4 linked regions of the Homo sapiens genome follow. The protein of the gene in region 1 interacts with the protein of each later gene in a pairwise test. Each region holds a gene or a part of one and is shown in the gene's direction. Other genes may lie near its edges. The genes, in order: EMP3, GJA5, CLDN2 and SLC35H1.

Region 1 (8,492 bases):
CTCTCCCACACCTCTCCAGCCCTCCCACCTCTCACACTCTGGGTCTTGCGTCTAGGCTCCGATTCTGGCGCGGGTTTGGCAGGGGACAGGCCTCCTGGGCTCTCAGGATATCTGAGGCCAGGCTGTTTGGTCGCAGGAGAGGGGGAAACCCCGGCCTGCTGTAGTGGGGGTTGGGCAGGGTCGGGGGAGTCCTGGGCCCTACCTGCCGACGGGCCTGACCTGTTCTTGGTGCTCCAAGTTCAGTGTTGTGGTCTGGTTACTGGGGAGATAAGGGACCAATGAGGACTGAGGACAGCGGCCAGGGAGGGACTGAGGCCGCGGGAGAAACTATGGGAGGAGGGGCGGAGAAGGATGCGAGGCGTAGACCTGCAGGGTTCCCACGGACTGAGAACTGATGGGCAAGGCCAGGCGCGGTGGCTCACGCCTGCAATCCCAGCATTTTGGGAGGCCGAGGCGGGCGCATCACTTGAGGTCACGAGTTCGAGACCAACCTGGCCAACATGGTGAAACCCCGTCTCTACTAAAAGTACAAAAAATTAGCCGGACATGGCGGCTCGTGCCTGTAATCCCAGCTACTCAGGAGGCTGGGGCAGGAGAATCGCTTGAACCCGGGAGGCGGAGGTTGCAGTGAGCCGAGATCCCGCCACTGCACTCCAGCCTGGGCGACAGAGCGAGACTCCGTCTCAAAAAACAAACAAACAAACAAACAAAACTGATGGGCGGCGAGGTCCTGAAAGGGGCGGAGCCGGGAGGGCCTGTGGAGCGGTGCTGCGGAGCCCTGAGAGGTGCACGGCTGTGAGGCCTGAGAGGGGCGTGCCGTAGGGAGCTGTGATGGGCGGGGCTGAGACCTGTGAGGAGAGTGAGTGGGAAGAACTTCGAGGGGCGGGGCTTCGGGGCCGGCGAGGGGAGGGGCACGGACACCAGTACAGGACGGGGCTTCGCAGACAGCGAGCGGAGGGGCTTCCCCGTAAGGGGCGGGCTTCGAGGGTCGCGTTTGGAAGGCCTTACGAGGGGCCCGGTGGAAGGGCGGTGAAGGGCGGGCTAATCGGGAGGCGCTCAGGCCTTGAAGGCCTGCGGGAGGTCGAAATGGTCCTGGGGAGGTCGAGGCTGAGGTCTCACTAGTACCGCGGGCCTGGAAGCGGCGGGAGTTGAAAGAGCCTGCGGTGACCTGTATGGAAGCCCTCGAAGCCAGGCCGAGGTCCTACAAGACGGAGCCCGAGAGGTGCCGGTCTTAAGCTGACTGTGACCACGTTAAATTAAGGATTCATAGGAAGGAAGGCGGTGTCGAAGCCGGGAGTTGCGCGGAGAAGGAGCGCTCAACACAGCCTCAGCGGTTCACTACGCAAGCGCGACCAACGGCTTCCCGGGAAGCAGCCAAAAACGCTTGGCCGCCTACCACGTCCGCGCGCTGGAGGGCGGAAGTGGGTGAGACCTCGGGCACTCCATACCGCCCCCCGGTTTCTGGCCACGCCCCCTCTGGTTACACCCACTCGCTCTGTAAGGCACGCCCCCTCCGCGGCGGCGGCTGCTGCCCACGTGGGCCTCCCCGGGCGGGCGGGCAGTGGGCGCCTCTCCCTGCAGGCTGGGTGTGCCCGAAGCCTGCGGTTTCCTGTGGGAGGAAGCGGCCTGCGTACGCTCAGCTCAGCTCATAATCTCGGAGGCCCAGGATGGGGAGATCCCGCCGCCACCCTCAGATCCTTTGATTCTTCCCCTTCTACATAGCCATAGTGCGGGGACCCCCCTAATATCCCCAGGGTACCCAAGCCTGGCGCCGATCCCACTCAGGGAACTTGATTCTGAGTCCTAGACTCGTGTTTTTCACCTCCCCGGCTCAAGTTTCCATCTTCCTAGCCCCTGGCTCCCCCTAGTCCTCTCAAGAAAGTGGAGCCCTCTTTTCCTGCTCCCCAAGAGGAACGTATGTCTCCCCAGCCCCTAATTTTTCCTTCAGTGACCCAGACTTTGCAACTTCCTTAGGGATCTGAGTGCGGACCCCAGTTTCTGTCTCTCAGGCACTTAAGTTTGAGACTACTTATTCTCCCCCAGGGACCCTCATTTTGGATTCCCAACTTTAGCCTTGAGACCCAATGGACCCAAGAATTTGCCCCTTCCCCAACTCCTAGAGATCCTGAATCAGGGTCCCCCAGTACTGACTCCACTCAGAGCCCCAATGCCTGATATGACTAGCACTACCCTAAGAACTGCCCTATAATGTATTTACTATTATCTCTATTTTTCAGATGAAGAGACTGAGGCATAGAGAAGTTATTAGTAACTTGCCAAAAATTACACAGCCATTGAGTAAAACAGCTTGGATTTTGAGTCCAACCAGTGTGGCTCTAGAGTCTGTGCTATACTGGTATTCCAGCTTCCAGGTCTTGGGGTACCCAGCCAAGCACTGAACTGTCCATCCCTCACCCCCTCAGGGAGCCCGAATCACCAACAGCTATCCCAAACCCAGCTCTGGCCCATCAGATACCCAGACATCCCATCATCCAGTTCCCTTCCCTGGATCCAGGATTTGAATTCCCCTGCTCTCAATTTATCAGAGTTCTGGGCACCTGGTCCCCTCCCAAGAGACTCGTGTACATAGTAGTCATCACCCCGACCCTAATTTAATATCCCCAAAATTAATAATAATAGTTAACAGTAAACCTTTGGGGCCAGGCACAGTGTCTTACGCCTGTAATCCCATCATTTTGGGAGGCCAAGGCAGGCAGATCACTGGAGGTCAGGAGTTCGAGGCCAGCCTGGCCAACATGGAGAAACCCCCGTCTCTACTAAAAATACAAAAATTGGCTGGGCGTGGTGGCGGGCACCTGTAATCCCAGCTACTCAGGAGGCTGAGGCAGGAGAATCGCTTGAACCGGGAGGTGGAGGTTGCAGTGAGCTGAGATCATGCCACTGCACTCCAGCCTGGATGACAGAGCAAGACTCCATCTCAAAAAAAAAATAAAAATCTTTGGTACTACACTCTGTTAAAACCTAATGGCTTTCCACTGCACTTAGAATGAAATCCAAGCCCCTCCCCTAGTCTTCAAGGGCACCCTTTGATTTCCCTTCTCACCACTCCCTCTGTCTCCCTGTGCTCCAGCCACACTGGCCCTTCTGTCTGCTCCCTAAACAACCTGAGCTTGTTCTCAAAAGCTTTAAGAGCTTTTGCACTTCCTCTCCCCCCGACGCCCCCCCACCACTCCCCAACCCCAGCGTTCAAATGACTCCTGTCTTCAGCTCAAATGTTACCTCCTCCAAGAGGCCTTCCCTGATTTTCCTGTTTCAAGTAGTCTTCCCTGCACTCTGTCATTATCTCCATCACTCTGTTTGATTTATTATTGTATTTATTTTTCTTTTCTTCTTTTATTTTTTTTTTTCTTTAAGATGGAGTCTTGCTCTGTCACCCAGGATGGAGTGCAGTAGCGTGATTTCAGCTTACTGCAACCTCCGCCTCCCGGGTTCAAGCAATTCTCCTGTCTCAGCCTCCTGAGTAGCTGGGTTACAGGCGCCCACTACCATGCCTGGCTAATTTTTGTATTTTTAGTAGAGACAGGGTTTCACCATGTTGGCCAGGCTGGTCTTGAACTCTCGACCTCAGGTGATCCTCCAGCCTTGGCCTCCCAAAGTGCTGAGATTACAGGCATGAGCCACCACGTCCAGCCTATTGTATTTATTTTTCAAGTCACTTATCCTTATCTGAGATTTATCTTCATCATTGATGTTTTCTCTTGTCTGTCTTCCTCTACTAGAATACAAGCTCCATAATACCAGCAGGGCTCATGTCTGTTTTCATTATTAACTCCCAGATCAGAGTACATGTTCAATAAATGTTTGATGAAGGAAGGAACAGGTTAGGTGTGTGAGTGTGCCAGTATTACCTTATTCATTCAGCATAAGTATCAGAATTATTATTATCAGTATTAGTATTTTGTCAGCATTATTATACTCTCAACATAGACTAAGATACTGGAGCCCAGGTGGGTGAAATAATTGGCTCAAGGTCACTGAACCAGGAAATGATGGCGCTGGGATTCTTAGCTTCCGCTTCCTCCCCGCTTCCAGAGTTTCACAAGGTTTTTTTTTTTGTTTGTTTGTTTTTTGTTTTGTTTTGTTTTTTTTTTGCGACAGAATCTCACTTTGTCCCCCAGGTTGGAAGGCAGTGGTGCAAACTCAACTCACTGCAGCCTCCACCTCTCGCGTTCAAGCGATTCTCATGGCTCAGCCTCCCAAGTAGCTGGGATTACAGTCGCCCGCCACCACGCCCGGCTAATTTTTGTATTTTTGATAGAGACGGGTTTCCACCATGTTGGCCAGGCTGGTCTCGAACTCCTGACCTCAGATGATCTGCCCGTCTCGGCCTCCCAAAGTGCTGGGATTACAGGCGTGAGCCACAACGCCCTGCCGAGTTTCACAAATTTCATCTCCCATCCTCTGACCCCCCACCACGGGGCCAACTTCACCAGCCCAATCTCAAGTCCATGCCACAGAAATCTGGCCTCTTTTCCCAGACTCCTATCCAGCTCCAAGCTCCATCAGGGAAAGCAGACATCCGGCCCCAGGGCAAGACCTCAAAACTCAAGGGTCCTGAGAATCGGGCCCTCCCACCCCTGACGCTTGCCCCCCCCAAGAACCCCATTCCAAGAGTTTCTCATCTCAACCCTGGGAGGGAGCCCCAGATGATGTCTGTCTGGAGGGATTGGGTGGGGGCCCAAAGAAAGAGGAACCGGAGTGCCTGGGCCCTCCCACTGGCAGCCGACCTCAGCTGGGTGCGGTGAGGGTGGGTTTATAAAAGGGTCAGTATATATTGAGAGGAGGAGAGAAAGAGAAACGGGAGCAAGAGAGAAGGAGGCCCAGACAGTGAGGGCAGGAGGGAGAGAAGAGACGCAGAAGGAGAGCGAGCGAGAGAGAAAGGGTTCTGGATTGGAGGGGAGAGCAAGGGAGGGAGGAAGGCGGTGAGAGAGGCGGGGGCCTCGGGAGGGTGAAAGGAGGGAGGAGAAGGGCGGGGCACGGAGGCCCGAGCGAGGGACAAGACTCCGACTCCAGCTCTGACTTTTTTCGCGGCTCTCGGTAAGTTTCCAGTCCGTTATTCAGGGCTGGGACTTCTTAATTTACTTGGGAATGTAGCAGTTTGGGAAGGACACCCCCAGGCTGGGAGAGACGTCCCTGACTCTTGGAAATCCTTTTAATTTAATAAGTGATCTCTTAGCACTTGAGGTGGGGATATGGGAAGGGGTGGGGCCCGGCAAAGTTTTGGGGTCCCAGCAGAGCCCTCCACTGGAAAACTTCCTGCAGTTTTTCCCTCAGCGGTGTCCACTGTCCTCTGGGGTCCCTGAGATCAGGGCATTGCATGAGAACACCCCAAATCTGGGAGACCTCTAGGTCCCCTGTTCCTGGGCACCAAAGAGTCCTGGGAGGCTAACTCCTTCTTGGGCCTCTCTTCCCCCCAGCGCGAATCCTATCCATTTCCTCCAGAAGATGTCCAACAGTCACCAGTCTGGCAGCAGGGTGGGGTGAGGACCTCGTGGACATAGCCAGGGGCTGGGGTTTCCCTGGTGCTTAGAGATGGGGGGGGGTGGGGATGAGTCACCAGATGACTCACCAGGTCCCCCTCCTCCCCTCAACCCAGGAGAGGAGTGGTGTGAGTCAAGAATGCCTGTTGCTGGGGGCAGCTCCTCAATCCTGATGTCGGGGTGCAGGGTGGGGTCTCAACTTGAATTTTCACTATCTGGCCTGTATGTAACCCAGAGTCAGGGTTCTGGGGAGAGAGGAGCCACATTGCTAGTCCTCCTCATTCAAGGAACCCAAGAGTCCATCTTTGGCCCTCTCCACCCCTCCAGCCAATGGGGATCTCAGGAATCCAGGCCCCAGCGGTCTCCTCCCTGAGAGACCCAGGAGTCTGCACCCATGCCCTTCCTCCATCAGGAGACATCTCACCTGCCTTTATGCCAAATTTTTTTTTTTTTTTGAGACGGAGTCTTTCTCTGTCACCCAGGCTGGAGTGCAATGGCATGATCTTGGCTCATTGCAACCTTTGCCTCCTGGATTCCAGTGATTCTCCTGCCTCAGCCTCCCGAGTAGCTGGGATTACAGGTGTGCACCACCACACCCAGCTAATTTTGTATTTTTAGTAGAGATGGGGTTTCACCATGTTGGCCAGGCTGGTCTCGATCTCCTGACCTCAGGTGATCCTCCCGCCTCGGCCTCCCAAAGTGCTGGGGTTATAGGCGTGAGTGTGCCTGGCCTGTGCCAACCTCTTGAGACTCCGTCCCCTGCTCCCCCTCCCCAGGCTTCCACTGCAGCCATGTCACTCCTCTTGCTGGTGGTCTCAGCCCTTCACATCCTCATTCTTATACTGCTTTTCGTGGCCACTTTGGACAAGGTAAGCCTACTTGGAGCTCAGGGCCCTTCTGTTCCCCTTTGGAATCTTGCCACGCCCCTCCTCTAAAGGCATTCTGGCCCCACCCCCTTTACCTAGTATTTCTTTTTTATTTTATTTCATTTATTTTGAGACAAGGGTCTCACTCTGTCCCCCAGGCTGGAGTGCAGTGGTGCGATCTCGGCTCACTGCAACCTCGGCCTCCCGGGTTCAAGCGATTCTCCTGTCTCAGCCCCCCAAGTAGCTGGGATTAGAGGCACCTGCCACCAAGCCCGGCTAATTTTTTTATTTTGGTAGAGACGGGGTTTCACCATGTTGCCCAGGCTGGTCTCGAACCCCTGGCCTCAAGTGATCCACCTGCCTCGGCCTCCCACAGTGCTGGGATTACAGGCATGAACCACCAGGTTAACCCTTTTAGCTCTACCTCCGATGCCTCCTCCCTGTCCTGACCCTACCCCCTCTCATATTAAATCCTAACTCTCCCCAGTTCTGCCCCATCCCAGATACCCTGCCCTTTTCCCAGCCCTTCCCACAGTCTGCCTGACCCTATCCCCTCTCCTTTCCTAACCCTGCCCCTTGTTTCGTTCTCTGTCCATCCCAGTCCTGGTGGACTCTCCCTGGGAAAGAGTCCCTGAATCTCTGGTACGACTGCACGTGGAACAACGACACCAAAACATGGGCCTGCAGTAATGTCAGCGAGAATGGTGAGGGGTGAGGGCGGCGGGACTGGTCTTCAAAGGGGAAGGTAAACCCTTCGTGTCCTCATGGGACTGAGAATTGGGAACCCTCCCCCAACAAAGTTGGAGTGGGCGGGGTCCAGGCCTGAGTGGCTGAGTGCCTAGGGCTAATGCATGTCCCGCCTGTCTGGATGTACCTACCTCTTGTTTTTTTTGTTTTTGTTTTTTGAGACCGAGTTTTCCTCTGGTTGCCCAGGCTGGAGTGCAGTGGCGCAATCTTGGCTCACTGCAACCTCTCCCTCCGGGGTCCGAGCAATTCTCCTGCCTCAGCCTCCCGAGTAGCTGGGACTGCAGGTGTGTGCCACCACGCCTGGCTAATTTTGCATTTTTAGTAGAGACAGGTTTCACCATGTTGGCCAGGCTGGTCTTGAACTTCTGACTTCAGCTAATCCACCTGCTTCAGCCTCCCAAAGTGCTGAGATTACAGGCGTGAGCCACCACATCCAGCCAGTACCTCCTGTTCTGAAGAGGCCATATAGATAAAAGCATGCTATAGGTTTAAAGAATAGAGAGGGGAGGCCAAGGCGGGTAGATCACGAGGCCAGGAGTTCGAGACCAGCCTGGCCAAGATGATGAAACCCCGTCTCTACTAAAAATACAAAAAAATTAGCCGGGCATGGTGGCGTGCGCCTGTAGTCCCAGCTACTTGGGAGGCTGAGGCAGAAGAATCGCTTGAACCCAGGAGGTGGAGGTTGCAGTGAGCTGAGATTGCACTACTGCACTCCAGCCTGGGCAACAGAGCAAGATTCTGTCTCAAAAAAAAAAAAAAAAAAAAAGAATAGAGAAAAATCTCCCAAGATTCTGAGAAGACAAGAGTATTTTTCCAAAGCTCTAAGGAGATGGGGCTGGTGCTCTGAATGGATGCCTGGGACCATTTCATCCAAATTCCAAGGGGATGGGGCTGAAACCACTTAAGGTTCTAAAGGGGTGGGGCCAGGTGCATTGGAGTTCTAAAGGAATAGAGCTGCATCTATCTAAAGTTCTGTGTGAAAGATTTAATGCAAAACTAAGATTAAAGGAAGTGGTCTGCTCTCACCACTTCTATTCAACCTTTTACTGGAGTAGCCAATGCAAGAAGGCAAGAAAAAGAAATAAAGGGCATGGGAAATAAATTAGGAAAAAGTGTCTCTATTCCCAGTAAACATGTTGTTTATGTAGAAAATCCATTAAAATTCTGCAAAGCAGACAGACACAGTGGCTCACACCTGTAATCCCAGCACCTTGGGAGGCTGAGGAGGAAGGATCACTTAAGCCCAGGAGTTCAAGACCAGCCTGGACAACATAGGGAAACCCTGTCTCTACAAAAATTTAAAAATTACCCAGGTTGTGGTGGCTTGTGCCTGTGGTCCCAGCTACTCAGGAGGCAGGGGTGAGAGAATTTCTTGAGC
Region 2 (7,311 bases), on another chromosome or scaffold:
GCAACCTCCACCGCCCGGATTCAAGCAACTCTCCTGCCTCAGCCTCCTGAGTAGCTGGGATTACAGGTGCCCACCACCACACTGGGCTAATTTTTGAATTTTATTAGAGATGGGGTTTCACCATGTTGGCCAGGCTGGTCTTAAACTCCTGACCTCAGATGATCTGCCCGCCTCGGCCTTCCAAAGTGCTGGAATTACAGGCATGAGCTACCACACCCGGCCGATTTTATTAATTTAATAGACACCATTGAGTGCCCAGTGTGTGTCAGGCCTTGCACCTCTTTGGTACTGTTCTCATTACTCAGAACAGTGGTAGGCACATAAAGGGGACTCAGCAAAGTATCTGCAGGTTGGCTGATAGACAAATGTTTGGAAAACAAGTCTAAGGAAATATATAACCAAGTGTGAGGATGTATCCTCCATGCTGGATGGTAATTAAAATTGCTACCATGTACCAGATGCTCAGTCTTCTGGAGTTCAGGGGACACCAAAGAGGGCTGAGGTCAATTTTAGAAGACTTATCCATTTTGCTGTAGATTTGCGGAGTCAGAGGAAGAGGTTCTGGCTATGAGTTTATGATTAATCTGGGTTGCTCTGAAATGATTTTCTTTGAAAAACACTGGCCGTGTAGGGGGACCACGAGAAGGAGCACTGGGCCGGGCATGGTGGGTCATGCCTGTAATCCCAGCACTTTGGGAGGCCAAGGCGGGAGGATCAACTGAGGTCAGGAATTTGAGACCAGCCTGGCCAACATGGTGAAACCCCTTCTCTACTAAAAATACAAAAACTAACCAGGTGTGGTGGCACACACCTGTAATCCCAGCTACTCCAGAGGCTAAGGCAGGGAGAATTGCTTGAAACTGGGAGGCAGAGGTTGCAGTGAGCTGAGATGGTGCCACTGCACTCCAGCCTGGGTGACAAAGCGAGACTTCATCTCAAAAAAGAAAAAAAGAAGCACTGGATTCAGAATGTAGGTGCCTGAGCTTTATTTCTGGTCATTGGCCATACAGTACATGAAATAAAATCATAAAATGATTCATGCTCACTATACACAAAATCCTTCCTCTGGCCCTCTTCCTCTTATCTAAGCACCATGTTGCTATTGCCAAACAAGTTTCCTAGTGGCCCCTCCAAAATTTGCTTTATCTCAGGATAGGACAAGTTGAAAGAGGATGTTGAAGGTTTGGGAGTGAAGAACCTTTAGAGTTGGGATGGTTCTCTTCCAGGTTCTAGGGACCATCTCTTTTTGCCTTGCTGATTTCAGAACTTGTATCAGTGGCAGAGGGCTTTAGAACGCAATTCCCTAGGACTCTCCCCAAAACCCAAAAACCAGATTCAGGCTCCTGCCCCACATTCCCATGACACCTTATACTTCCTTTATGTTAACACACATTGTGTTTTACTGAAATCATGTATTTAATGTCTGCTGTTAATAAAGGGGTATAAAGGCAGTTACACTCAGTGAAGTCAGGGAATCCCTTGTTTGTTTCCCCTCCTTCCTGCTGTATCCTCATTGTCCAGAATGATGGCTGGCACCCTGTAGCCACTCAATAAACGTATTAAATGAATTTTAAAAAGGACATTCTAGGCAGAGGGAACATAAGAAGCCAAGATAAATGGGTGAGAAATGGTGAGATGCACATAAGTACATGTGAAATTGTGTAGCTTAAGTATTGAGTGTGTGAGTGGAAAAGTGGAAAAATGATAGCATAAGACTGTACAGGGTTTCACATGGCAAGTTAAGCAGTTTGGACTTTCTAAGTGGTAGGAAGCCAGTGAGGATAACTGCTAAAGCAGTGAGGTAAATTGCCATTGTGTTTGATAGCATTTATTCATGGCATGGGCAGCTTCCTTTGCCCCTCCTAATACACTTCCTGCCAAGAAGCAGATAATAATCTACAAAGTATTTTATATGCTATACGCCCAGTAAACTCACTGAGTATCTAATCTACAAATTTCTTTGGCTGAGATGGGGTATCCAAAGGGAGCCAACGTAGCTGGAAAAGTAACTACAGCCAGAGACCTTTCACATTATAAACTGAGCATCTGGTACATGGTAGCTATTTTAAGTTTCTCTGACCTTGCCTGAGCGTCAGCAGGAAGTCATACATGAAAAACCCTTCACCCTATTTCCTCTGCCTGGGCCCAGGAGGTCTGCCTCACCCCTATACCTCCTCAGATAGTTTCTCTTTTTCCCTCCCAATAAGATATCCTTCCTAATACTGCCTTTCTGGTTTTCCAAGGTGTTCCTTTCTTGTATCTGTGCTTTACCTCTTCCAGGTGGAATTCCTTGGACAGCAGTGAAGGAGTCAGCAGTCAAGCCTCTTGGCAGACTAGACCAAAGGGTCACATTCTTTGCCTGGAACTATTTTTATACTTCCTTGGGGACTTGCAAGGAATGAGTGACAGAGTGAGAAGATCAAGGGAGAAGTCTTCAGGGACTGAGTGTGGAAAACTTGCCCCAAATCCTGGAAGAATATGACATTTGTTTCTTTTTTTTTCTATTTCCATTTTCCTCTCATTTCCTCCCCTTCTACTCTTGCTCCCATTTCTTTTCTCCTTTGTAATGCACCTTTCTCTACTTTCTGCTTTCTCTTTTTCCCTCCTTCTTCTACTCTCATCCTTCCCCACTGCTCTTGTTGCTAGTAATGGCTACCTTTTATTCAGTTCTTATTTGCTGAACACTGTGTTAAGTGCTTTGCACGCATCATCTCATAGCACTCTATGAGTTAATAGTATGTCCATTTTGCAGGTGAGGAAAGTGGAACACAGATTGAATCATTTATCTAAGCCCAGCAGATGGTAATAGAAATTTGTCAAACCTCAGTAAGCTAACTCCTGCATCTGTCTTTTCTTAACCCTACATGGTCTTTTTCTCCATTTCCAACTCTCCCTTGTCCTTCCCTTTTCTTCTCTTCTTTTTATTCCTCCCCTTCTCTCCCTCCCTCTTTTTCTCAGACATTTACCATAGTTCAGTCACTGCACGTGTGTGGCTGACCCTGAAGGTGCTGAACACTGTACATGTGCCCAGAAGAGAGGACAGACAATTCAAACTCTTATCTAATCAGCCATTTTCCTTTTGAGCACATGCTCCACAATTTTCCACATTTGGAGGCTGAAAGAGGGGGCGCTTCGCCACCTAAGGAAATGGGGCAGATGTCTGATCACAAATGACAGGAAAGGCCTCAAGACCTGCATGGGTCTTTGATATAGAGAGGAGCAGAGATAAGATGCTTTCCGCTCACTCAGGAACTCCCTCATTCCCAGGGACACTGTATACTCTCAAGTTTGGGGACCTGGGGTCTGAGAGAATACAGGGCCAGGAGGTTGGTCCCTGTCAAGGCAACAATCAACTCAAGAGCTGAGGAAGCCTGGACTATGAAATGCACCACCCTGACCCCATCTTTCCCCATAAGCATGAAGAATGTTCAGACAGAAACCAGGAGCACGTTGGCAGCAAAGATATGACGGTCAAAGTTTGAATTTGACAAACCTCTAAGGACCCACCCAAATCTGAGGTTTATGATTCTAAGAAAGGAATATTTATGCTCCATTCCCTCCGAGACGTTTGTCATCCTGTTGGTTAGGAATGGTTAGAGGCTTAAACTGTAAGAACATTCGTTATTCACTAAGTAAGAATTCTGGAGGTAGGGAGCCTCAAGAGTTGCTTCAGAGGCCTCAGGGCACTGGTTGACATTTCTGAGATTCTCTGGACAGCTTTAGACATCTTGGTTCATACAACTCTGTCCACAGGCAGGAAGCGGTGGGGCTAAGTGAGGCTCACTCCTATTCACCGGGGGATGGGAGCACTGTGAGTAGTCTCCCTCCTGTTCACCAGGGGATGGGAGCACTGTGAGTGAGGTTCCCTCTTGTTCACAGGGGGATGGGAGCACTGTGAGTGAGGCTCTCTCCATTTACTGGGGGGTAGAAAAACCTTTTCTGGAGCATTCCCTCTACTTTAGATTCTCCCCATACCTCACCTACCAGAACTAACTGCAGAGGAGATTAAGAAAGTGATACCTGGCTTTTTCACCCTGCCAATGGGAGGCAGGCAAGAAACAGGGAATTGGTTTTCTATTGGGTAGGAAACAACAGTGCCTGTCAGCCCCTCCTTCATTCACTCAACTAAGATATATTAAACACCTACTCTGGGCCAGGCTCTGGTGATACAGAAGAAAAGACAGTCTCCATTTTCAAACAGTCCCTCCTGGGAGAACACAGACAGGCAGAGGATTACAACACAAGGCAGCAAGCACTGGGAGACGAGTAAGTGTCCCGGGGGCCATCACAGGAGCTGAAGAGGCTCAGCTTGAGGGAGGAGGGAGGGCTGGAGGAGGCAATGACTGGGTTAAGTTTTGAAAGGTAAATGGGATTCAGCTAGGGGTGAGGGGACATGTAGGGGTACAGAAGGAGGGCATTTGGGAAGACTTGGCATGGCTGGACAAAAGGAACTCATGTGGACAGGCAGGAACAGGCTGGAAAAGCAGACAAAGGCCAGATGAGGGAGGATTTTGTAAGGGACATAAAGTTTTGGGACATTTATTCTGGACATAAGGGTGGGCAGATCTGTGTGTGGGAACCTTATTTAAATGAGACACAGAAACTTAGCAGCAGGGCGAGCTGAGCTGTGTGGCTGGAATGGCTGTGTTGCACCGAGGCATGGGAGATCAACATTGCCTTACCAGCCAGGGGAAGTGAGCACTCATCTGTGATACTGTTAGCTGGTGTGACCAAAGCACACTTTTTGTTTGCCACCTCCCAACACAGCTGGTCCATGCTGGATGGTTCTGATTTTTGCAGAGTGCTTCCTGAGGGGCCAAATTTGCCAATCCCATCCTCACTCTTTCCTCCTCCACCTAGTTCTGCCCTCTGGAGCCATAAAAAAATTCCTTTTCCATCCAACAGCCATTTAAACATTTGGAACAGTTGTGGAATGATTTTCAGAATATCACACACCTCATATCATTTAATCCTCAGAATTCTCTGGTGTAGCTATTCCCATCCCCATTCGATAAATGAAGAAACAGACTCAGTGAGGTAAATGCCCAGAGTCACATTTGCAGACCCCAGTCTTGTGTTCTTTTTAATACTCGTGTTTCTCCAGGTGCGGTCCCTCACCGCCTGCATCAGAATTACTTGGGCTGCTTGTTGTAAATCCAGATTCCTGGGGGCCATCCCAGACCTCCTGAAGTAGAATTACTGGGGCAAGAGCAGAATCCATATTGTAACACACACCACGATTTCTAGATCCGTTAAAGTGTGGGAGCCATGCTCTAATTTTGCTAATATGGCTACTTTGAATCTTCTCTTTCTTTTTATTTTTGCTGGGAAAGGAGAGCGAGCTTTTCGTTGGTTGCTTTGACTTCTAAGTTGCATTTTCTTAAAGAACCCATTGGATGGATGGATCAGTGGAATCCCAGAACATGATAGACATTCCAGACCTTCACAGAACATCCTTCTTCTTTTCTCTCTTTCTCTCTCTCCCATTTGCAGAAGTTTTGGCATCTGTTCCCTGGCTGTGCCAAGATGGGCGATTGGAGCTTCCTGGGAAATTTCCTGGAGGAAGTACACAAGCACTCGACCGTGGTAGGCAAGGTCTGGCTCACTGTCCTCTTCATATTCCGTATGCTCGTGCTGGGCACAGCTGCTGAGTCTTCCTGGGGGGATGAGCAGGCTGATTTCCGGTGTGATACGATTCAGCCTGGCTGCCAGAATGTCTGCTACGACCAGGCTTTCCCCATCTCCCACATTCGCTACTGGGTGCTGCAGATCATCTTCGTCTCCACGCCCTCTCTGGTGTACATGGGCCACGCCATGCACACTGTGCGCATGCAGGAGAAGCGCAAGCTACGGGAGGCCGAGAGGGCCAAAGAGGTCCGGGGCTCTGGCTCTTACGAGTACCCGGTGGCAGAGAAGGCAGAACTGTCCTGCTGGGAGGAAGGGAATGGAAGGATTGCCCTCCAGGGCACTCTGCTCAACACCTATGTGTGCAGCATCCTGATCCGCACCACCATGGAGGTGGGCTTCATTGTGGGCCAGTACTTCATCTACGGAATCTTCCTGACCACCCTGCATGTCTGCCGCAGGAGTCCCTGTCCCCACCCGGTCAACTGTTACGTATCCCGGCCCACAGAGAAGAATGTCTTCATTGTCTTTATGCTGGCTGTGGCTGCACTGTCCCTCCTCCTTAGCCTGGCTGAACTCTACCACCTGGGCTGGAAGAAGATCAGACAGCGATTTGTCAAACCGCGGCAGCACATGGCTAAGTGCCAGCTTTCTGGCCCCTCTGTGGGCATAGTCCAGAGCTGCACACCACCCCCCGACTTTAATCAGTGCCTGGAGAATGGCCCTGGGGGAAAATTCTTCAATCCCTTCAGCAATAATATGGCCTCCCAACAAAACACAGACAACCTGGTCACCGAGCAAGTACGAGGTCAGGAGCAGACTCCTGGGGAAGGTTTCATCCAGGTTCGTTATGGCCAGAAGCCTGAGGTGCCCAATGGAGTCTCACCAGGTCACCGCCTTCCCCATGGCTATCATAGTGACAAGCGACGTCTTAGTAAGGCCAGCAGCAAGGCAAGGTCAGATGACCTATCAGTGTGACCCTCCTTTATGGGAGGATCAGGACCAGGTGGGAACAAAGGAGGCTCAGAGAGGAAAGACGTGTCCCTTCTGAACTGATGCTTTCTCACTGTCATCACTGCTTGGCTCCTTTGAGCCCCGGGTCTCAATGACGTTGCTCATTAATTCTAGAAACTATAACCAGGGCTCTGGGATAGTAAGAGAGGTGACAACCCACCCAGACTGCAGTTCCCTCCCCACCCTCTACCCAGTATACGAAGCCTTTCAGATTACTCATGAAACAGGGTAGAGGGAAAGAAGGGAAGCATGGCAAAAGCTGGCCTGGAAGGGATAGCCAGAGGGATAGAATGACTCTCTCTCTACATACCAGCAGCATACCAAATGCGTTCTCTAAGTTCCTACCTCCTTGACCTGATCACCCTCCCTCCTCCAAGGAAGAGCTCAAAGTTCCCAGCCAATAGACAGCATGAATCAAGGAACTTGCATTATATGTGCTCTTGAATCTGTTGTCTCCATGGACCATTCCTCGGAGTAGTGGTGAGATGGCCTTGGGTTGCCCTTGGCTTCTCCTCCCTCTACTCAGCCTTAAAAAGGGCTTCTTGGAACTTTACCAGCAGCCTCAGCTTTACAAATGCCTTGGTATGTACCTCTGGCAAATGCCCTGGTATGTACCTCTGGCAAATGCCCCACCTTGGTGATGTTGCAACCTTTCCTTCTGCTAGGGTGTAC
Region 3 (8,486 bases), on another chromosome or scaffold:
TTTGAGCTTCACCCATGTAGCTGTGTGTATCAATAGTACATTCCTTTTGATTGTGAAGTAGTATTCCATTACACAGATGTACCAGTTTATTCGTTCACTAGTTGAAAGACATTTAGGTCATTTCCTAAATAAGAATGTAAAGTGGTCCTGAGACCAAAATGTTGAGACCCATTGACAGAATGTGCTCTTCCCAGAGCTCTCCTCAATTGGGATTTTTGTGGACCAGTGGAATTACAAAATTTTTTAAAATGAGGGAGAATCAACATATGGTTTTCAAACTTTTAATTTTGTTAATTAAGGGCATTGAAAAATACTACCACCTCTTATTTTACAAAAGAAACCTTAATACCAACTATTCAAAGAATAAGTCCGGAATTACAAGTAGTCTTTTAAATTGAATAAGCTTTAAATAATTTACAAATCTTGCTACATTGGCCTTAGTTTTCTCCTATTGGTGATCCTCTACCACTCCCTTCCTTTCTTCTTAAGTCTGTGCATTAGTGCTTAGGAAGCCCTTGCTCAACATTTCTCCTCCTAGATCTGCTTATCCATTGCCTCTCAAACCTTTATTCTCTCTTTCCTCCCAGACATGTCTTCATGAGCCCTTCTCCTGCCTCCCCTCCCAGAACTTCTCTTCTTCACCCACCTTTCTCTTACATAATCATTTTGTCTCTCCTTCCTCTTCTCCTGGACCCCTTTCTTCCCAGACCCATCTAGTGTTTCCCTTCTTACCACAATCTCTTCTCAGTCTGATTCCATCAATTCAATGGTGCACCTACTATGTATTAGACTAGAATAGTGATGAAAATAACAATTGAAAGCCAAACCCAATGTGCACAACAAACCCCCATGACATGTTTACCTATATAACAAACCTGCACATATACCCCTGAACCTGAAATAAAAGTTGAATTAAGAAAAAAAAAAAAAAGCCAAACCCTTCAGGCATTCACAGTCCTATGCAGGAGTAGCAACAACAAATACAACCCAAGACAATTGGTGGGGGGATAACAAGATGCTTTGGGAGCATAGAGGAGGAATATCCAACCAAGAGACCCCAGGAATCAGGGAAGCAACCGTTAAGCTGAGCCCTAAAGGATAAGGAGTTTTCCAGACAAAACCAGCTGAAGGTGGAGTAGGGCCAGGGTCCACAAAGAGTTCCAGGCAGAAGGAACAGGACTTGTAAAGGCCTAGAGGGAAGGGAGAGCATTGTAGGCTTGAGAAACTGAAAGGAAGCCAGTCGGGAGAGTGGGGAGTGAGGAGAGTAGTACAAAACCAGTTTGGAGAGCTAGGTAGGGGCCAAATCATACTACTATGTGGAGAATGGACTGTAGAAAGCCAAAAGGAGAAATAGGAAAATCAGAAGGGTATTGCATCCCGGTGAGAGATGATGCTAAGGGGAGTGGAAGTCGAAACCAGCAGATGGACAAAAAAGCTAAATTTTGGAGGTAGAATGGGAAAGATTTACAGGTCTGATACAATGAGGGTCAGAGAAAGTGGAATTAAGGCTAACTCTGAGGTTTCTGGCTTAAACAATTGGCTTTCTCAAAGGGAGAAGACTGAAGGAGGACTGATTTCAGTTCAAAGGGAAATCAAGGATACAATTTTGAGGCTGGGCATAGTGGCTCACACCTGTAATCCCAGCGCTTTGAGGGGCTGAAGCAGGAGGCTGGCTTGAGCCTAGGAGTTTGAGACTAACCTGTGCAATATAGTGAGACCCCATCTCTACAAAAAAATTATAAAAATTAGCTGGGCGTGGCGGCACATGCTTGTAGTCTCAGCTACTTGGAAGGCTAAGGCAGGAGGATCCCTTCAGTCCAGGAGTTCAAGGTTATTGTGAGCTGTGATCATGCCACTTGCATTCCAGTCCAGGCAACAGAGCAAGACCCTGGACATGTTGCATTTGAGACAACTTTCAGCTATCCAAATGGAGATGCCAGTATATAAAGGTCTGAAGCCCAGAGAAGTCTGGGCTGAAAATGATGATTTGGAAGTCGTCAGATGATAGAGGATAACTGAAACCACAGAGGATAAATGAGACTTCCCAGAATGGGAATGCAGAGTGAGGAACGAGGACTTAGGTCAGGCTCCTGAGAAGTGCCCATATTTAAGGGTCTGGCAGAGGCAGAGGTACCAATGAAGAAGTACCCAGAAAGATAAGAGGGAAACCAGAGGAGTGTTGTTATCACAGAGGCCAAGAGGAGAAAGTATTTCAAGGAAGACAAGGTTATCAAGGGCATTGAATGTTGCATAGAGGTCATGGAAATTAAGGACTAAAAAGTGGCCATTGGATTTGGTGACATGCGGTCATTGGTAACTGTGACAAGAACTTCTTTTGGTGGAACAGTGAGGGTGAAATGTCTCTAAGTCTCTCTCTGCCCTAGACCCTAACTCCTTCTCCCAGAGTCCATCCCTACACCCTCTTCCTTAGAGTCTCTTACTTCTCCTTCTAGACTCCTCTTTTCATAGCATCATTTCCTCCCTGCCCTTCAAGACCTTGCTTTCTACAGAGCTCTCTTTGATTTTCTTCCTCAAAGACCCTTTTTCTCTCTTCTCCTTTTCTCTTCCCCCAAACCACCTCTTCCCATACTCTTATTTCCCTCCCTTTATTCTCTCCCTACTCACTTGTCTCCTGAACTAAATGCTGCTTTTCTCAGACTGCTATTCTTTCCTGTTCTTTCAGCCCCCTCTCCATTCCCGCACCCATCTAAGCTCTTTGGATCTCAGCAGGGGTCTTGGCAGAAGGATTACTAAAGAACCTCCTAGGCTCAACACTGAGGAGTCATAGTATTTGGCATGATTCCACCAGGATCTGACAATGCCGACCTGAAGGAAACACAGTGTTAGAACCCAGTCCTTGAATGATTGCCAATCTGGAAACCACATCCTGCCAACACAGTCTCCTCATCCGCCCTGGCACCTGCCCCTAAGATTCTGCCTTTTCCTATCCTCAATTGCACAGTCACTATGAACTGATAAGGTGCCCCTCTACTACATTCTGCATTCAATCAGCATTTTCTACTTGTCAAAATGCATTCACATTCATTCACCCAGCCTTGGGAATTCGGCTGGGTGAAGCCTGGGAAAAGAAAATGGAGAGGCTTGCCTGAGGTCACATAGTTGGTTAGAGGATTAGCCTGGTATCCCTCCCACCCCTTCAGCCTTGCTTGCTTTCATGCCCAAAGACTCCCCAGGCCTGAGCTCAGGCATGGCTGCCCTTTTAGCGTGTCCCAGCCTGCCAAGAGGGAGTGCCCTGGAGAGACCCTTGCTCAGGAGCACTGCCAGGGGATCAGTGCCCCATTTGTACCTGCAAGGTAGGGATGGGCCGCCTTGGGAAGGAGGATGATTTCTGGTTTGCTTCACTGAGTTCACCCTAGGCAACAAATCCGACTGTTTGCTTTGATATGACTTGAAAAATAGAGTCAAGCATAATGACTATGAGGCAAGCTCTAGAGGTGGCCAGGTTTGGTACCCAGGCCTTGCTCTGTACTAGCACAGTGAGACCATGGATAGGAAACACCTCAGCACAGTGCCTGGCACCTAGCAAGTGTTCAATGAACCGTGGCCTTATCATTTGTACATGGGAATCCTTGGGAGGGAGTTGGTGTTGTACACTGCAAAGTTTGCCAAGCTAGATATCTACAGACCTAGATTCCAAGTCTAACTATTACTGCTCAACTTGGGATGTTGGGCAACTCTTTTCATCTCATTGGGCCGAGGTTTCCTCATCTGGAAATAGTAATGGCTGTCTTATTTTTGTAACATGTTGTATTGGCCTTTAAAACATGCACACTCTTTCACCTAGCAATTCTATTCTTAAGACTTTGTCAGTATTATGTGCAAAGATGCTGGGTTATAGTGAAAATGAAAATAACAAAACGTCTAGTAGTTTACGATTAAATAAATCATATTTTATATGATAGAATGCAGTGCAGCCATGACAGAATGATGTAGTTCTGTGTTTTAATTGACATGGAAATAGGTCCACGATATGTTATTTACAAATGATGTAAGGTTACATAAACTGTAGGTATAGTGTGATTCAATTTTATAAAACAAATCCCATCGATATCTTCTACAATACATCAAAATGTTAGCAATGATTATTTCTGGCTGGTGGCATTATGAGGACCTCTATTTTCTTCTTTATAATTCATTTTCTGAATTCTTTTCAATAGCATCTAGTATTTTTCTACTTAGAAAAAACTAGAAAGCTTTTTTGCGTTGGGAGAGTAAAGCCAGTCACTGCGCTCTACTACTCCACAGCATGTTTTTTTGTTTGTTTGTTTTGGTTTGGTTTTATTTCTGTTGTTGTTTGGGTTTTTGTTTGTTTGCTTTGCTTTTTTGAGATGGAGTCTCACTCTGTCACCCAGGCTGGAGTGCAGTGGTATGATCTCGGCTCATTGCAACCTCCGCCTCCTGGGTCCAAGTGATTCTCCTGCCTCAGCTTCCCGTGTAGCTGGGACTACAGGTGCGCACCACCACATCCAGCTAATTTTTGTATTTTTAGTAGAGACAAGGTTTAACCGCGTTGGCCAGGCTGTTTTCGAACTCCTGACCTCAGGTGATCCACCCGCCTCGGCCTCCCAAAGTGCTGGGATTACAGGCGTGAGCCACTGCACACGGCCTTCACAGCACTTTTGAGAGGCTTAAATGACATAGTGCATGGCACTGCCATGTGTGGTAAAAAGGAGAGCCCTGTCCTTATGCTGGCCTACTCAGTTCCACCTTGTAGGACCTGCTCTTTGAACTCAGAGTCTGAACCTACAGTACCCATGTTTGCCCTTGAGCCTTGGGACCAACCTTAGGGGTGGGGTAGGGCTGAGGGCCTGCCAGAGAATCAAGCTGAGTAGAAAAGTCTATGGAGCTGCAGGCCATGCAGGGCTGCTTGGGCACTGGCTCACCAGGGCTGTGTTTATGCAGCTTACTCCCTGCTGGGCTTCAGGGCTGCTAGCCAGGGACACCTAATTGGTGGGACAGAGCCCCCTCCTCTCACCACCCTCAAAGCTGGAATGTTCTGAATTCCTTCTTGGGCCAAATCCCCCTCCCCACAAGGCCTCTCCTGGGTTCACAGAGGTCACCACACAAAAGCCCAGCTGGAGTGGAGTTTTTGACAGAAAAAAAAAAACACACACAGAAAACCCACCAAACCTTTTTTTTTTTTTTTCTAAAGTGCCTCAATCTTTCCCAGCCTCCAGGGGTTTAATTCTGATCTGTAATAAGTCTCTGACCCACGGCTCAGATTTGCAGATGGATTTTGCAAAGCTGTGGTTAACGATTAGAAATCCTTTATCACCTCAGCCCGTGGCCCCTTGTACTTCGCTCCCCTCCCTCAGGATCCCTTTCTCCCTCTCCAGGGGCATCTCCCCCTCCAAGGCTCTGCAAAGAACTGCCCTGTAAGTATCTCCATCCTGATATAGTTGCTGCCTTTTAAATTCACCGAGGTGGGCACTCTTCCTTCCTAGTCACTATCCATTCACCCCATGGTGGAGCCAGGCTGGGCCACCTTGGGTTTCTGAGTGAAGGGTATGGGAGGGGAAACTCCGGTGGCATTTGGGTTGGTGGTATTTGTTCCCTCAAAGCTATCACAAAGGTTCAAATCTTTAAAACTTCAGGACCAGAGAAAGCACTCTCCAAATCAGATATTTTCTGGTTTGGGGGCTTAAAAGGACTGGGATAAAAATTGGAGGAAGGGAGCCACAGTTTACCCCTCTGCCTAAGTGTAGGGGACTGAGGAGTGGCAGAAGGGGCACTCCCTCACAGCCAGCTCCAGTGCCCTCCTTGGCATGAAGGCTCAGGGAGGTAGCAGAAGGTGGGTTCCTAAGTGAAGTCATAAAGTTTCCCCATGAGGTCCTTCAAGGACTCTCCCTCACTGGTCTGCAAGTCTGTCATTAGAAATTCCTTCTTTCGACTGAGGTATTACTCTCTTCAAGTGCCCTCTTTGAAAATGCAGTTGGAACCAAAACATTCACAGCACTTATGGCCGGGGAGATCGTAGGCGATTTTTGTTTTCTAAATTCTGCCTTTCTGTGTTTTCCAGTGTTCTAAAGTGAGAATGCTTTACTTTGATGATCAGGACAAAAATCAACTTCTTTTTCAAACAATAAGAAAATCTCTCAATCCAGTTGCAATTCTCTGAACTGCCATCAATCAATTGATGTAGAAGGAAAGATGAACTGCTCTAAGGACAAACTTTCAAGAAAGTAGGGCCTCAAGGGAATGGCTTTGCCACCTACTAGTGCCCTTGGCAGCTGGAAGTGAGTTTCAGAGAAGGGGGCAAGTGTCTCAGATTCTTATGAGGGGCAGTGAGATCAAGGGATATAGAAATGAGGCTGACTGACAGAAGAGGGCTGTGGTGGCCATCATCACCCCCAGAAGGCCACATCAGTTCCTTCCTTGAGCCTGGGAACCCCAAGTGCCCTGTCCCATGTAGTCTTAGGAGGGTACTGCCAAAGAAAGAGTACCATGCACAAGACTCTTGGAGCAAGAGATGGGGAGAATAGCAGGGAAAGTACCTAGGTGAGAAGGGGTTAAGTCAGGAGCTGCGGTCAATCTTGACCCTCCTAATCCTCTCCTGCAGCTCCAATCTCCCCACTAGGGAAGATTAAGTAAGGATCCTAAGTTAAACTTTCTTGCCCAGTCCTTGGGCCATGGAGTATGTTGGCCCTATGCCCAGAAGACAAATTCAGCTGACAAGGCCTAGAGTCCTCTGTACCTCCAACGCAGCCAGTACTTGACTTCTAGGAGGATCCCTCAAAGAGAGGCTTCTATTAAAACTGGCTGCTTCTAATAACAGCTCTTCAGTCTTCTATATTTGTCAAAGTGGCTTCCTGTCCCCATGCCTTTATTTGAGACTAAAAATCTTGGAGATGACAAACTAGGGCCTAGAGAAGCTATAGGACTTCCTCAGCAGGTTCTAGGCAGAACTGACACAACAAGAAGCTAGATCTTTTGATTCTAACACCAGGACCCTGTCTGCCCTCACCTCTACTGCTCATCAGACAAACAAAAACCTGGCTGAATCCAGCCTGTCTCACCACCCAACCATTCGCCATTTAGCTGGTCTTCCTAACTCTGGTGGAAAGCTGAACCCCCCCTCCATGGGGCCATTTCTATCACTTGAATAAGCTCCAATAACTTGTTCTTCCTCCTGCCTGGGCATGCTGCTATGCCAAGTCAGACTCTAGAGATTCCAAGCCTCAGTAATGGCATTTTCTTGACTCTGCCCTCTCCCTCACCCCAAAACACTTGCCTACTTACTACTACTTAGGACAGGCTCTGGGGAGAGGCTTTCCTCTTGGGGACACTGTTGATTCCCTTGGGAAACTCAAGCTTGACTCTTCAGCTGCCATCCCAGGAAGGCTGAAGCAGGAGCTGCTCCTCTGGGAAGCAGTAGGTCTTCCCCTTGAAAACCTCAAGGTATCTCACCAATTCTCACTGAAAGCTCAGATACAAATAGGAGGAAGAAAGGAAAAGTATTGAACCCAGCCTGGGTGAGGAGCAGGGAGGGCCCAAGGATGGTTTCAAGGCAAGGATGCATCCTCAAAGATGATTTGCAATTATCCAAGCAAATGGTGGATGGTAGAATAGCATGCTTACGGGCTTGGAGACAGAGAGAAAGGCAGTCAGAGAAATTCAAGTGCTTAGGTTTGGCTGGATCATATGTGTATGTATAGGAGCATAAAGCATGAGGTTGGAGGTTAATGGTGTGAGATGAGGCTGTGAAGAAAAGCCGGGGTGAAATAATGGAGGGCTTTCTTGGTTTCCTGGGCTAGCAAGTTTGAACTTCATCCTGAAATACTTAAGAGCTCTGAAGATTTTTTTTTTTTTTTTTTTTTGAGACAAAGTTTTGCTCTATCGCTCAGGCTGGAGTGCAGTGGCACAATCTCGGCTCACTGCAACCTCCACCTCCCGGTTCCAGCGATTCTCCTGCCTCAGCCTCCCTAGTAGCTGGGATTACAGGCACATGCCACCACGCCCAACTAATTTTTGTATTTTTCGTAGAGACGGGGTTTCACTATGTTGGCCAGGCTGGTCTCAAACTCCTGACCTCGTGATCTGCCCGCCTCGGCCTCCCAAAGTGCTGGGATTATAGGCGTAAGCCACCGCACCCGGCTGAGCTCCTGAAGATTTTTAAGCATGGCAAAGCGTGAGGTGAAAGTCACAATTTGATTTCAACTTTACAAAGATCTTTGACTACTGGGTAGGTAATTCATTATTGCAGGATTGGGGCAGAAGTGGAATTAGAGAGATCAATTTGAGGTGTCTATGAGATTTTCAAATAGACAAGAAACGATGGTTGCATAGTCTGAACTATGGTTTAGGGCAGTGGCGACAGAAAGAAGTAGATGGATTCACAGTCTATTTTTGAAGGCAGACCTGATGGTACATTATAATTAATTATATGTCAACAAGAGGTGAAAAAGCAAGGATGACTGGCTTGGGTTATTAACTCAGTGACAGCCCCACTGAGGTAAGGAACACTG
Region 4 (7,511 bases), on another chromosome or scaffold:
CAGGGCTGTTCTGATCTTTTTAAACATAGGAACTCATTTCATCCTTCCAAAAACCTGGTGTGGCAGTACTATTATTATCCCCCATTTTGCAGGTAGAACAAAATGAGGCCCAGAGAAGTAAAGATAACTTGCCCAAGGTCCCATAGCTCGTAAATGAGCCAGAATTTGAAGCCAGCAGCCTGGCTCCAAGTGGTCCAGCCCTACTCTTAACCACCCTATCTTGCCTCTAAGGAATGGGGAATCAGGGATTGTTCCAAGATGCTGGAGTAATCAGGCAAGTCAGAAAGGCTTCCCAGGCCGTGGTTTGGAGGGTGAGTGGGATTTTGGCAGGCTGCAGGGAGCAAGGCATCTCGGAAGTAGGAATAGGAGGTTCAGCCATGTCCAGGAATATAACCTGGGGATGTGTGTTCAAGGAGTGTGGGCCACGCAGGATCAGCAGAGGGTGGGCTTCCAGAGCTGGGGGCTGAAGACCAGGAGCCAGCACACAGGAGCCTGGGGACATGGTCAGTTGTTCCTCCACTGTCGTCCTCCAGGGATGAGGAGAGCCCTGGAGAACTGTGTAGGCTGGGAGGTGTGACGCCACCTTCCTTTCTTTGATGTTTTGGGATTAGCCTTTGTCCCCTTTCTGTTTATCCTTCCTCCCAGAGTCCCGTCTGTAATGCCCTCAGGGTCATTACAGAAAATTCTGTCCCACATCCATTTAAGTTTCAAGCAGTGAAGCGTCTTGAACCTCCCCAAGAAAATTATTCTGAAGCCCCGTTGTCCAGGAAACTTCTGTTCAGGGCCTCGTTTTTTTTCCTTCTTTAAAATCTCTCCCCACTCCTTCATTATGCCCCCTTGTACCAAACGCCACACTCTCCCTCCCCTCCCGTGTGTTTACACCATGCCCCATCTCTGCAAAACCTCATCTGAAAGCCCCTGGTAGTCGTCACTTGGCAAAGCTGCATGGATTTAGCTCCTTTAATCTTTTCTGGTAAATTAATCCCCCAAGCGCCTTCATTACTTATGCTGCTCTTCCCCGAATTCCCTTCAATTTGCCGACGCCTTTGCAGTTCTGCTGAGCCCAGCACCAAACAAGATGTCCTACACTGTGAGGCTGTTTTGCCTGGGGGGACTGTCACTCGGCATTTCTTTGGTGCTTCCCTCCAAAAATCTCAAAATACTCGTCCAGCTTCCAGCTACCACAGTTGTCTCTTGTGCCCAGTTCTGGGCCCCCCTTCACCCTGTGCTAATACACCACGAGGACTTTCGTGTGGGAGGGACGCCGGGAGTCATTCTTCCAGATGGACAGTGTTGGAGGGACCATGACTCCTCCGAAAGTCTAAGCTGAATTTGGGGTAGGGGGTGTGCATGCCTGTGTTTCTGGAGCAAGGGGCCATGTGTTTGCATTTTCTTTTTGGGAAATGTTCATCAAGTGATACCACGGGTTGGAGAAATACCAGTCTGGTCCCAGGCCTCTCATTTTATCAGTAAGGAAACTGAGGTCCAGAAAGGGGACACATCTCAGCCCAAGTCCCACAGCTCTGTACTAGCAAGACCTAGATTAAAATGAACGTTTGTAGGGATAGAATTTTGTCCCTGTTTGTAGGTGAACTGGCTGAAATGTAGACCAAGGAGTTCCCTGAGTGGGCTGGGGCACTGTTGGTCCTTCGTCACTTGGTAGCCGCCCTACCTTCTTTAGCCCAGTAGTTACCACAGCTCCAAAGACCCCATGAAGTCAGCAGCCATGAGCCCCTCCCCACAGACCAGTAAGGGAATACTGTCCAAAGGTGCAGGGCACTTCCATCCGTCTTTCCATGCAGGGCCACCCCCCTCTACTTCACCCCAGAGGCTCAGACGAGCCCTCCCCATCATTCCGCTAGGATCCCCATCATCCCACTAGGATCTCCATCATCCCGCTAGGATCTCCTTCATCCCACTGGGATCTCCTTCATCCCGCTAGGATCCCATCATCATCCCACTAGGATCCCCATCATTCCACTAGGATCCCATCGTCATCCCGCTAGGATCCCATCGTCATCCCGCTAGGATCCCATCGTCATCCCGCTAGGATCCCATCATCATCCCGCTAGGATCCCATCATCCCGCTAGGATCCCCATCATCCCGCTAGGATCCCATCATCCTGCTAGGATCCCCATCATCCCGCTAGGGTCCCATCATCCCGCTAGGATCCGCATCATCCTGCTAGGATCTGGCTTGTATTGCCCCCAGGCGCTCTGGCAGCCATCACTGCTTCCCTGGTTTCCCCAGGTCTCAGGCCATCTGTGTGGGATCACTTTATACCTTCCATGCTTTTTCTCTGGGCTGCAGACAGTTAGCAGGTCTCAGTAAGAACTCACTACTACAGTGGAAGATCTTGTGTGGTTGGCATTGGGCTGGCCAAGGCAGCCCAGGACCCGGCCTCCCACTCTCTCTCCCTGTTGCTTTCAGGTCTCCATTTGTCCACATCTGAGAAAATCTTCCGTTTCCAGGACACAGGGCTGCTCCTGCGGGTACTTGGGAGCCTCTTCCTTGGCGGGATTCTCGCCTTTGGTTTGGGCTTCTCTGAGTTCCTCCTGGTCTCCAGAACCTCCAGCCTCACTCTCTCCATTGCCGGCATTTTTAAGGTACAGACTCGGGCGTGATGCCAGTCCTGTCTTAGAGAGGGAGCCCCCAGGGGTTTCTCACCAGCAGCTTCAGTCCCAGCTCCTGCACCCCAGGGCCCTGCAGAGAAGAGAAGGAAGTGCCCCATTAGGTGCCAGGCACTTTGCTGAGTGCTGTGCTGGCCCCTCCTTCTGCCTTGACCACAGCCCTGTGAGAGGGTATGATCACTCCCATCCCACAGACAGGGACACAGATGGAGAGCCGCCCCTCCCCAAGGGCACAGCAGGGGCCTCAAAGCCAGCTCTGACTCTGCTAGGCCTGGAATGCATTCACATTTTACCTTGACTGCCAACTCTGGCACTGGGCAGTGGCCTGGAGCCACAGGTTGAACAGCCCCTATCCAGACTCATCAGGAAAGAGTTCCGTGATTGACTGGCGGTGTCCTCCAAGGCCATGGCCAGGGCTAGTGAGACCCTGAGAAAGCACCCCTGTGGCCAGCCTTGCTGTACCTCTGCCTCGCAGGCCTGTCCTTCCCTCTCATACCTCTTCTCACTTCTCCTTCTCCCTCCCACACATTTCAACAGTCCTCCCTGTTCAGGGGCAGGGAGGGACTTTTCTCTTTGGCCAGGCACACACCAGTGTTGAAGCAGTGTTGCCTAAACCCAGAAATGCAGGCCTGTCCAAGGGTCTTCTGGTGGCCAGCCGCATGCTGAGGCATGGCTGTGGTTCTTGGATGAACGGCCTTGCCAGTCCTGTTTGGAGTCTCTGTTTATAGAGAGCCCCGGGACCAGTTGTGTCTTCAGTCCGGGGTAACACAGCATTCTCACACATAGGCTCAGGGCTCTCTTCTGTGGCTGCCTTCTGGGGCAGCCGTCCTTTATCCTTGTGGATAAGGCGCGATCTGGACACCCTGGTCCCCAGCCTGGGATCTGGTTTGCCTCTTTTATTCCTGACAGAATTCCATGACAAGCACCTCCTTTGTTGCATCTCACAAAAGGAGGCTGGCGGGACAGCGCCGCAAGCCGGCCGGGTCCCCTGACCTCTCTGCCTGCCTGGGCCCAGGATTTCAGTAAGATCTTGATCTGCCCACCTGAGTGTACCTAGTGCCCCCACCTTCCACCCTCCTGGTCAAGCAGCCAAATCTGCCTGTTGATCATGCTCCCTCCTGCTTCTCTGCCCCCAGGAAGTCTGCACTTTGCTGTTGGCAGCTCATCTGCTGGGCGATCAGATCAGCCTCCTGAACTGGCTGGGCTTCGCCCTCTGCCTCTCGGGAATATCCCTCCACGTTGCCCTCAAAGCCCTGCATTCCAGAGGTAACCCAGAGTCCCTTCCAGAAGCCTCTGTTTTCTGTTCTTCTCCCTGTGACTCTTAGTGATTCTGATGCAGGAAGTGTGCCCGGTGGCTCTGCTGCCGTCACTCCTCTAGGAAGATGTGGGGGTCATCTCCAGAGTGGGTGGGTGGGGCCTGGGTGACTCAGCACACATGCAAATCAGAGCAAACCAAGAAAACCACGACTGGGCCTGTAACTGTGGTCTCTCTCTATCCCAAGGTGATGGTGGCCCCAAGGCCTTGAAGGGGCTGGGCTCCAGCCCCGACCTGGAGCTGCTGCTCCGGAGCAGCCAGCGGGAGGAAGGTGACAATGAGGAGGAGGAGTACTTTGTGGCCCAGGGGCAGCAGTGACCAGCCAGGGCAAATGGCTTAGAAGCAGGCCACTCCCCAGCCTGCTGCCAGCACTCACTGTGCTCAAGCCGCCAGGGCTCATCATGGTAGCTGGGAGCTGTGGACGGGAGTCACCAGGTGGTGGGGCCAAGCCAGGGACTCATGACTTTTGCCCCTCCCTTCAGAGCCTGGTCACACAAGGGGCGAGCACCAGGCCAGCCTGGGACTGGCCAGAGCTGGGCCCAAGCTGCGCTGGAATCGCAGCAGGAGAGGGGAGTGGGCTGGTTCTTCCCACCACTTCCCAGGCTCTGACAGCCGAGACTCATTTCCAAGGCACAGCAGCTTTCTAAAGGGACTGAGTTTGGACTGGGTTTTGGACCTCCAGGGGCTGGAGCTTCATCACCTGGGCAGTGTCTTTTCTCAGAGAGCAGGTTTCTTTATAGTTTGGAAATAAATGGTTCACGGTCCACTGGCCGCCTTGTGTTGCTGGAGACGTGGGGGCAGGGAGGGGACAGTGTGGGCCTGGCCTCTCCTTTCCTTTCCCTGCCTGGAGCCTTCTTCAAATGTCTGGTCTTAAGCCAGGCCTCCTTCATTTTCTCGCTCCTGTTAGAACACCAGTCCCCTCCCCAGTGGGGCCCCACTGCACCTGCTGGCAGGAAATAAATGAATGTTTACTGAGTACTGCATTCTGGAGACCTTACATGTTTTCACAGCCTAGTTTGAATACTGGCTTTGTCACTAGCTGTGTGACCCTAAGCAAATGACCTAACCTGTCTGTGCCGTAGTTTTTTAATCTGTGAAATGGGGATAATGTCTATCTCAGAGTCCTTTTGAAGATTGAGTCATTATTAGTAACAGATTAAATGTTATATAAGCATTTCTTTTAATCCTTTTAACAACTAAGAGACTAAAGCCTGGAAAAGATAAAGAGCTGCTTAAGTGGCCGGGCTGAGGTTCACATCCAAGTCTGTGTACGTCTGTGTGTGCACGTGCTGCACGTGACATCCACACAGCCTCCTGGAACTTCATGGGCCCCTGGGGCTTGGGCTTTCCACTCCTCCTTGGCCAAGTCCCACGTCTTCTCTAGACTGCAGGCCTCTCTCAAATGAGGAAGGGAGGGGGCAAGACCCCAGCTCTGATGTGCTGTGGACTGAGTCTACTCCTGTAAACTGGTTCCCGGGCCATGGGAGACCCCCCCGGCCCTTGGGGACAAAGCTTTCCAGGCGAAGTGCTCCTAGGCACTCACAGCAGGTGGCGCCATTGCACCACACTGGCTCCCAGAGCCCAGCTGCCCTGCCACGGCTATCCAGACACCGGCAGAAAAGGGGTGCTTGGAAGAGGACAGTGGGTATCCATGGGTGGGGACAAGGATAGGGCTTGTTCTAAAATTGTTTCCATCAGGTTGGAGTCACTAAAGCTCGTTCGGTTAAGCCCAGGAGAACTTTAATACTTTAAAAATGGGTCTGCAAACTTCCTGTAAAGGGCCAGATAGTAAATATTTGGGGTTTGGGGACCATATGGCGTCTGTTGCAGCTACTCTGCCATCGTAGCACAAAAGCAGCCATAGATGACACAGACCCAGGGTGTGGCTGTCCCAGTGAAACCCCATTTACAAAAGTAGGATCCAGCTTGCTGGCTGAAGTTTACCAGCAGGAGAACCCTCAAGAATTCTCGAGTCCAACTTCCACTTCTGCAGCAGGAGACTGAAGCCAGGAGGGGGCGGTGACTAGCCCGAGGCCCTCAGAGCCTCCGTGCTCAGGAGTCAGACCGAGATCTGCCTCTAATTCAGATTCCCAGCACAGACTCAGCAGGCGGAGGTGGAGCACCAAGGGCGCTTGGAAGCGGCCTCTTATCTGGCTCCTGCACCTCTGCCCCCCTTGGATTCCGCAAGCTCAGAGGCCAAGATTAAAGGAGGCTCGTGCTCCAGCTGGATGATGTGGGAAGAGCCAGCCAAGGAGGGGGGCCAGGGCCTCCTCCGTCTTAGAGGCTGCTTGGGATGCAGGCTGCTTGGGCGGCAGGGGGAGTCTGCCAGAGCCCCGCTGGCTCAGGTGGATGAGAGCTTCCTGTCTGCTCCCCCACTGCCCGCCTCCCAGCACAGGGAGCAAGCGTTGCTGTCTGGTGCAGTAATTACAAGGTGCAGAGCGGGGGCCCTTACCTCGCACATGTTGGGTTCAATGACAGCCCTTCATTTAGCAGCAATTACCAGCTGAACCTAAAGGAGGGCTCCCTCTCCTCCCCCACCCAGCCCACCCAATCGCCTGGCCTCCCAGGCCAGACAGCGTCCACCTCGGCATTGAGCCCTAGAACCACCCATGCTGTCTGCAGCCATTGCATCTCAGGGCTGCAGCATCACCATGGCAACGCGGTGCTTGCACAGGTTGAGGGGAAGCTGAGGATGTGACTTGTCTCTCCAAGGCTGTGGTGTCTGTCCCCACACAGCCCCAGCTCCGAGGCTTCTGCAGAAGGGGCGGAGAGAGGACTGACCTGCAGGTTCGAGTTTCAAGTGCTTACCTGCCCACCACCTCTCCCAGGGGCCCACAGTGGAAGGAAGGTTAATGGCTCCAATATGTGAGGACGTCCACAGTTGGTGTTGTGGTGGCGGTGAGAATGGGCTGCAGTTTGCCTGTGGGAGGGACCTGAGCCATCAGGCAGGGCCCGGCATACCTTCATCTTCACTCCGGTACCCTTTTCTGCCTTGAGGGCTCAAGGGATTGTCTCCATCTGTTTCTGCTTTATCCTGCTGTGAAAAACCTGAAAATCCCAGTGGCTTGAGAGTAGTTACATGGCACCAAGAGAATTCTCCTCATGGTACTTGCTGCAGCTTCCTGCATCACACACTAGTGATGGACTGAGGGTGGGGACTCCCAGGCCATCCATTTAGGTCGACAGCATTCAGTGAGTACTGGCTACATGGCAGACACTGCCGGACTTGGGGACAGAGACATTCATTTTTGGAGTCAGCCTTCCTCCCAGCCCAGGAAAGTGATGAGGCAGTGGGCTGGGGAATGGGGAAGAAAGAACAGAAAAGACCGTTCACTGGGCACCATCTAGGCCTTTGCCATAGGTTATTTAATCTGTAACAGCCCGGTGCAGTAAGGACTGATTGTATTTCTTTCCTAGCTGTGGAAACTAAGTTCCAAGTGGTTAAGCATAACGATGGCTAAGGATACAACCTGCAGACGCCGTAGAGTGAGAGACGTGTCTCTCTTTGCTGTGATTAGCTGCGTGCTTTTGGACACGTTGCTGATCTTCTCCGAGCCTGTTTCCT

Evidence for each region.
Region 2: the proteins of EMP3 (region 1) and GJA5 interact in binary tests that used the Homo sapiens proteins (3 or more experiments, as listed by UniProt).
Region 3: the proteins of EMP3 (region 1) and CLDN2 interact in binary tests that used the Homo sapiens proteins (3 or more experiments, as listed by UniProt).
Region 4: the proteins of EMP3 (region 1) and SLC35H1 interact in binary tests that used the Homo sapiens proteins (3 or more experiments, as listed by UniProt).

What each region holds. Positions count from the first base shown.
Region 1 is NC_000019.10:48,320,553-48,329,044, forward strand, and holds the start of EMP3 (epithelial membrane protein 3), read left to right. Parts: upstream 1-4,999; 5' UTR 5,000-5,058; intron 5,059-5,438; exon of another isoform or gene 5,439-5,501; intron 5,502-6,277; 5' UTR 6,278-6,292; coding exon 6,293-6,370; intron 6,371-6,968; coding exon 6,969-7,071; intron 7,072-8,492. UniProt on the Homo sapiens protein: Probably involved in cell proliferation and cell-cell interactions.
Region 2 is NC_000001.11:147,757,454-147,764,764, reverse strand, and holds the start of GJA5 (gap junction alpha-5 protein), read left to right. Parts: upstream 1-4,162; 5' UTR 4,163-4,266; intron 4,267-5,493; 5' UTR 5,494-5,526; coding exon 5,527-6,603; 3' UTR 6,604-7,311.
Region 3 is NC_000023.11:106,915,156-106,923,641, forward strand, and holds the start of CLDN2 (claudin-2), read left to right. Parts: upstream 1-5,246; 5' UTR 5,247-5,396; intron 5,397-8,486. UniProt on the Homo sapiens protein: Forms paracellular channels: polymerizes in tight junction strands with cation- and water-selective channels through the strands, conveying epithelial permeability in a process known as paracellular tight junction permeability.
Region 4 is NC_000020.11:46,347,147-46,354,657, reverse strand, and holds part of SLC35H1 (solute carrier family 35 member C2), read left to right. Parts: intron 1-2,431; coding exon 2,432-2,607; intron 2,608-3,767; coding exon 3,768-3,897; intron 3,898-4,133; coding exon 4,134-4,264; 3' UTR 4,265-7,511.